Linked DNA regions of Homo sapiens. The protein of the gene in region 2 interacts with the protein of the main gene of each other region in a biochemical or structural test. Each region holds a gene or a part of one and is shown on either strand. Other genes may lie near its edges.

The links. The genes of interacting proteins can lie anywhere in the genome.
Region 1: the proteins of TRIM6 (region 2) and RIGI form a complex in vitro, tested with the Homo sapiens proteins (one study listed by BioGRID).

What each region holds. Positions count from the first base shown.
Region 1 is NC_000009.12:32,488,103-32,491,757, forward strand, and holds part of RIGI (antiviral innate immune response receptor RIG-I), read right to left. Parts: intron 3,319-3,655; coding exon 3,199-3,318; intron 1,350-3,198; coding exon 1,242-1,349; intron 786-1,241; coding exon 632-785; intron 102-631; coding exon 1-101.
Region 2 is NC_000011.10:5,610,037-5,613,599, reverse strand, and holds the end of TRIM6 (tripartite motif-containing protein 6), read right to left. Parts: intron 3,456-3,563; coding exon 3,355-3,455; intron 3,066-3,354; coding exon 3,039-3,065; intron 2,824-3,038; coding exon 2,258-2,823; 3' UTR 648-2,257; downstream 1-647. Other genes in the region: TRIM6-TRIM34 (tripartite motif-containing 6 and tripartite motif-containing 34), read right to left, coding at 3,039-3,065, 3,355-3,455.

The DNA of each region.
Region 1 (3,655 bases), on a different chromosome or scaffold from region 2:
CAAGAATCTGTGGAGTTAAAATGATGATGTCATTGTTCTCAACAATCTGTTCCACTGGGACATTCTCAGCTGTTGCTCCAGAAATGCCTGTAACTCTATACCTGGGAAATGACAGAAATTCCATATTACTAACCACGATGTGGATAAGGAACCACAAAGATGAAATGCTAGATCAGAACATCAACTGATTAAATTCTCCCTGAGTCCAAAAGAAGAATAGCTGTAGGCAAGTCCTTAGCACAGAGCCTGACACATAGTAAGAGATCAATAAATCCAAGCTAGTTGTAATTTATAGTACTATATATTATTTTAAGTCACTAAGAGAGAAAAGAGTACGTAAAAGAATAATATCAAATAAATTATAAAATCACTAAAGAAGTTAAATGTGCCACGTAAACATCAAATTTATTCCTGAAGTCATTTACTCCCCATAGAAGGGCAAACCAGGGGAGTTTAAGTTTTCTGGTACATCTAACAAAAAAGACTTGAATCCATGAAGGGATAACATCTGGATTATAAAAAAGCTGAATCTAATATAAATTTTTTTAAATCATTTGTCAAAAACAAAACAGAAAACACATCAATTACATGAAGCTGGAGAAAAAGAAGTTGAAGCAACTATTATACCTACCCATGTCTTTCAAAGTATTTTGAGAATACAGATTTCTGCTGTTCATACACTGGGATCTGATTCGCAAAAAAGACAACTTTCCCCTTTTGTCCTTGTGGGAATTTTTTAAGATGATGTTCACATATAAGCAGTGAAACAAAGGTTTTTCCACAACCTTTTAACATGTAAGGAAAAAAGAAAACATGTAACTCATATATTAGATATTTCTCTGGAAAGGTGTTTATTTTTGGCTCTTCTAATACCACTGAGCTGACTAATTAATTGATAATTTAAATATGTTAATGATTACAGAATTTACACTATGACTAAAAAATATCAAGCTGCTCCCTAAGTAGCATGCCAACAGCCAGGACCCAAAAGCAAGCTAAAAGAGGACACTTTTCTTTACCTTCTCATGAAAGGTAAAGAAAATACATTAAATACATTAATGTACATAATTAATTAATTACATAATCCCATAAAAAACATTAGGATTATATTAGGACAGTTTTCTCAAAAGACACATGGAACAAGGAAAAAACTGAAACTTGCCCATTCTGTCCCAGTATTCAACAAAAGAAAAAAAAGGAAGCAAACAGAAAAACTATGTAAGTAATGGCAATAGGCTTACCTGTAGGAGCACATATTATTGTGTTTTTTCCTTTCATAGCAGGCAAAGCAAGCTCTAATTGGTAATTTCTTGGTTTAAATGGGCTGTACAAGTTTGTATCAGACACTTCTGGAATACAAAAGGAGCAAAATTACCAAACAGTTCCTGCTCTGAGGAATCACGGCAATAGCTACAGTCTAATGTCCACAAATTCTGACTCCAGCAAGAAGATCCTCATTGGAGAAAGTTTAGAATCCTTTCTCTTGGTAACCATTCTAGCTTTTCCACTAATTTGAAGTACAGAATTCTCTCAGTGACAAAGTATTGATGGCAAGAAAGAAAAAAAAAAAAACATGAATTATTTTTTATACAATCATGGAAGGCTAACAGAAACCAAAGAAAGAATGGCCCCATTCAGGGTAAGACAAGCTGTCTACTAAAGGCAATGCTGTATGTGAAAAAAGCAACAAATCCTCCCACGATCTTTGAAGAAAACCAAACTGTTAACATTGGATTCTCAAAGCAATTTCTTATTAAGGAGCAATAATGCTTTGTCGTTCTTCAAGTTCTCAAATGATATTTTCTCTCAACATAACCAGAAGTTTTAAAAAATAATCAAAGGCTTTATCTCAATAACAGGTAGGCATATAAATCATTAAGAGCTAGCAAAGACTTTGGAAATTATCTACTGAGTCTAACCTACCCATTTTAGAGAAAGGGAGAATTTCTAAAAGGTTAAGTGAATTAAACTCACACGAAAGACATGTAAAGGCCAGGTGCAGTGGCTCATGCCTGTAATCCCAGCACTTGGGAGGCTGAGGTGGATGGATCACTTGAGGTCAGGAGTTCAAGAACAGCCTGGCCGACATGCTGAAATCCCCACCTCTCCAAAAAAAATACAAAAATTAACCAGATGTGGTGGCACATGCCTGTGGTCCCAGCTACTTGGGAGACTGAGGCAGGAGAATCACTTGAACCCAAGGTTGCAGTGAGCTGAGATTGTGCCACTGCACGCCAGCCTGAGCAACAGAGCGAGAGACTCAGTCTCAAAAAACAATAACAACAACAACAACAAAAGGCATGCAAGAATCTTCACGTGTCAGAAAATTTAAAGCAACTCATATTCATGTATCTGTTTTTTTTTTCCAAGGGGTAACAGATTTTATTCTGAAATGACCAAAAAAACAAAACAAAACAAAAAAACTTGTAACATTCAGTTGCAGACGTAATCTGCACATTTTCTCTTTATGATGTTATTCTAATATCATTTTTCTTCTACCACCACTATTAATCCCAATTTCCTTCCTGATACTCTTTTATACATAACTTTTTATTATGGCATATTATGCAACTTGCCGGTCTCATAAAACCATCAAGAAAATATGCTTTGAGAAGCATAAGGGGGCCTCACAGGGCCACAGCTAACTTATACAGTGCCTTTGTGTAAATGACAAAAGGGAGCTCCTCTTGGAGGACACAGCCCCTCAGTGCACTGTGTTGCAAACGACACAGGCTGGATCTCAGCCCCTACTCAACCTCTCAGCCAGGCGCATTTGGGTAGCACACTAACTTCATCAACTTGCAGGGCAGCCCAGGGATCCTAAAAGGAAATTGAGCAAGTGACTCAGAAATAGAAGTAGTATTTATTTAGAAAGCAAGGTTGATTTGGGAATTCATAGACATTGGGTTTTGGTGAAGACTCTATTTGCATTTCCAATATAGACACGCCCATACTTTCTTAGTGGTAGAAGAAGAAAAAAAAGATAGTAAAAGAAGAAAAAAAGATAGTGGAAGAACTAGGAGAGAATGGCATTCTAAATATAGAAAAAGTATCTATTGTAACATAAATTCTCTTTACTTTCTTAATTTTCCTTACAAAACTTTTCACAAGGCTGTGACTTTGGGTACTGCAAAACAAGCCCCCACACCAAATACCAGAAGAGCACCATTATGGAAAAGGACAAACAATACCAGGTACCTGAAGGTGGACATGAATTCTCACTAAGATTCTGGCATTCTGGATCTTCTTGGTAGAAAATCTGTATGTCAGAAGTTTCCATCTTATCCTCAAGATCTTCTGTTTCAACATCTTTTATACCTTTTTAAGACCAAAAAAGTCTTAGAATCTTCACATAATCTGATTATAGTTTTGATGGTGAAAGCTCCACAAAATGGTCATAACACTAAGATTTTTAACTTCTATTAAAATTTCTCACAACCACTCCCCTTCACCTTTTAAAACAGTTGAAAGAATCATTTTGAGTTTAAAATCTCAATTTGGCGTTGACCTCCAATGTAATTTAGAGCTATATTACTCAAAGTGTGGAACGTATTGCCCTACTGAATCAGAATCCACATTTTAACAAGACCTCGGAGGGATTCGTATGCACCAAAAAAAAAAAAAAAAAAAAAGAGCATGATTTAGCAGACATTCA
Region 2 (3,563 bases):
TTCTCTTTCCTGAACTTCCACCAGCCCCATAGGTCCCAGTCAGCTGGCCCTATCTCCTTTTATATCTCTTCCAATTGAAACGCAGACCAGGATAAGGAGTTTGCATCCAGCCTCTGGGCTTCCACAGATATGATCTCCCAAATATTATAAAACGGTGCCTTAGAACAAACCAGTAGTGAGCTTTTACTATAATCTGCACTACTTTATCTCACCATAGACACCCAAGCTGAGCCTTGATAACAAATCAGTGTTTCATCAAACCATGAAGGAGCTTCAAGTGCCCAACAGACTGAGGACTAACGGCAGGGGCCAGAGTCTGCAGAATCATTCTCTGGTCATGAGCCCTTTCTATGATCTTCCAAATTTCTACACTTCTAGATATGTTGAGATCTTCTTTTCTCTGTCATTACCTTCCATAAAAATGCCTCAGGGCAGCTGGGAAGGTGCAGGTTCTGTAGAGATAAACATATGTGCCTTGAAACCTCCTCTGTATCCTGAGTCCATAGGCTTTTACACTAGGGCTCACTTAGGGACAGAAATTTCATTATAGGATCTACTCCAGAGTTGTCCAATAGAAATACAATGTAAGCCACATATGTAATTTTAAGGTTTCTAGTATCCACATTAAAAAAGTAAAATGAAACAGGTAAAATGAATAACATACTTTATTTAATCCAATAGAGCCAACATATTATCATTGCAATACACAAAGGAAAAGTTATTAGTGAGATATTTTACATTATTTTTTGAAGTAGGTATTTGAAATCTGGTATATATTTTATACATTGAGCACATCTCAATTCAGACTAGGCATGTATGAAGTACTCAACAGACATTGGTGGCTCCTGGATACCATATGGGACAGCCAGTGCCATTCTCATCCTTGATATTTGTTTCTACCCTCACATGTACCTCTTAATTTCTTTTATAGCTGGTTCAAAAAACATATTGCACCTCTCTACCAAAGTCATAGCAGCTCACTCAACAGCTGTTTGTTCCTGCGCATAAAGAGAGTGTGGAAAAGCTGGAAGAAATCATCCTCTTCCTTTAAGTGCTTTATATTGTTCATATTTTCTCTTTGTGTTTTCTTTCTATTCTGAGAGAAAAATATGTATTGGATTGTTTTTCTCTCCCCACTACTCTTTTGTTTTTACTGCAATTAATTTGAAAGACGTATTTTTTTTTATTGTTCTATTGCTACTCTTAAATGTAGAGAGGAAGGCCAAAGGTTGTAGTGAAGATTGTAGTGAAGACTCTCTTCAATTTGAGTTTGAAGCTACCCAAATTATCATTATAATGGTTTGGTTTTAGAGCTCAATCCTATACATACTTATACAAAAACAAAGTAATTTATTTGCTTATTATTGCATTTTATAGAACCTGGCAAAGATATTACAAGAATGTAAAAATACAGGCCAATTTCTTTCATTAACATAGATGAGAACAAAATCTAAACAATACGTTATCAAAATAAATCCAGTATTGCATACAACAAATAATAATGGTGTATTTCAGCAAGTTGTGGTAACAAATTGAAGTAAATCAATGTACTAAGCCACATTAACAGAACAAAAATGATACACAATTGTCTCAATAATTTACAGAAAAGACATAGGTAGAATACGAGTTTTCATTTTATACAAAAACTTGTAGTAAATTAACAGATCAGAACTTCCTAAATTTGATCCCCTGCATCAATCAAAAAAAACCTGCATCAAATACTATGCTTAATGGCAAAATACTGAAAGCGCCCCCTATCCACCTCAAGACCTGTCATCAGTCAAAGATGCTTACTCTCACCACTGGGTGCATCCTAGTACTGAGTAACTGTTTAAAACGAAAGAACTGTCTGGGCGCGGCGGCTCACATCTGTAATCCCAGCACTTTGGGAGACCGAGGCGGGTGGATCACTTGCGGTCAGGAGTTCGAGATCAGCCTGGCCAACACGGTGAAACCCTATCTCTATAAAAATACAAAAATTAGTTGGGCATGGTGGTGGGTGCCTGTAATCCCAGCTACTTGGGATGCTGAGGCAGGAGGTTCGCTTGAACCCAGGAGGCAGAGGTTGCAGTGAGCCGAGATTGCGCCAGTGCACTCCAGCCTGGGCGACAGAGCGAGATTCCATCTCAAAAAAGATTCAAAAACCAAAAAACAACAAAAGAATTGAGAACACAGAAAAACAGAAGATCAGAAGGGAGAATCACATGCTGATAAGCCTCAGGGTACTTATCAGAAGTGGGTGGGAACAGAAGAATATTCAAGAGCTTGGACGACGCAGGGTCATAGGAATTACACAGTTGCAAGGATTAAAATATGGACAAAGAGTAGTGGGAAAGTAATATTTAGAGAAAGTGTAGATGGGGAAGCCATGGTTTGTGACATTATAAAAGGAGACAGTACCAGCCTCATAATCTAAGAAAACCCCAACACGGCGAGGGGGCACTGTCATGGAGAGAAGCAGGGAAGGGGAAGAATCCTCATAGGCCCTATATTCATGGTTATGCTGTAACCCAATCACCCAGTATCCACTCTGAGGCTGATACCTGGAGTAAGCACTGTGATTTTGAGCAAAATGGTTGAAAGAGAATGTAGGTCCCAGTGAATTGCTGCATACCCCCAGGATCCAGGCAGTCTTCTTGGCCACATCTACCTCCCAGTAATGCTTACCAGAGGAGAAGTGCTGGGAGCCCAGGACACTACAGTCATAATGCTTTTCCAGACAGGAAGGTCCAGATACTTTAGCTCCCACAAACCTCACTTGTCTCCGGTTTTTAGCCAGGACAAGATTTAAATTAGCTGTGTGTGGATTCAGGGTCACGTCAACTGTAGGAAAAGGTACAACATCAGCAGATGAGAACGGGGACATGGGTCTCGTTATGCTGAGAAGAGGAAACACAGGAAGTGGTTGGAGGAACTGGAACTATATGGCGGGGATGGGGGAGGCATCAACACCTAGGATCTGTGTGGCTATGTCTGGGGAGGGCATGTGAAAGGAGATCAGAATGTGCCAGCCCAAAGAGGCCATGGCTTCTACTTACCCCAGTAGCTTTGGACATCTGTCAGCTCTGTAATGATGAAAAGAGTCAATAATGTTGAATAGGACCAACTGTCTCATGTCTGGTATCTCTCTCCTTACTACATTGAGGGGAATGGTGAGGAATCCTGTGAGGATGTCACCTGGCCATTTCATCTCCCCTTAAATACAAACCGCATCTTCTTCAGCACACTATGTCCCTCCCTCTGGGACCTCCCTCTTTGCCACTATGCTCAAATACCGACTATAGCCTCTATCCCGTTTATTTCTTCCCACGACAGTAATTTCACATCCAAACTCTTTCCCCTGAATCTCCTTACCTCTACACACTCGCAGCATCCTTTTCAGATCTGGGGCTCGGAACATACTTCTCAGCTTTGTAGGGAGAGCTTCTGGCTTCCTCAGGGTCCAGAACTCACTCCTAGAAAGGACAGGACTTCTGAGTTCCCACACTGCTGACTGTGGGTTCCTCCACCACCCATCTCCCTTACCTCCCAAGCCTACTGATGAATTCCAATCCTCCTTTCTG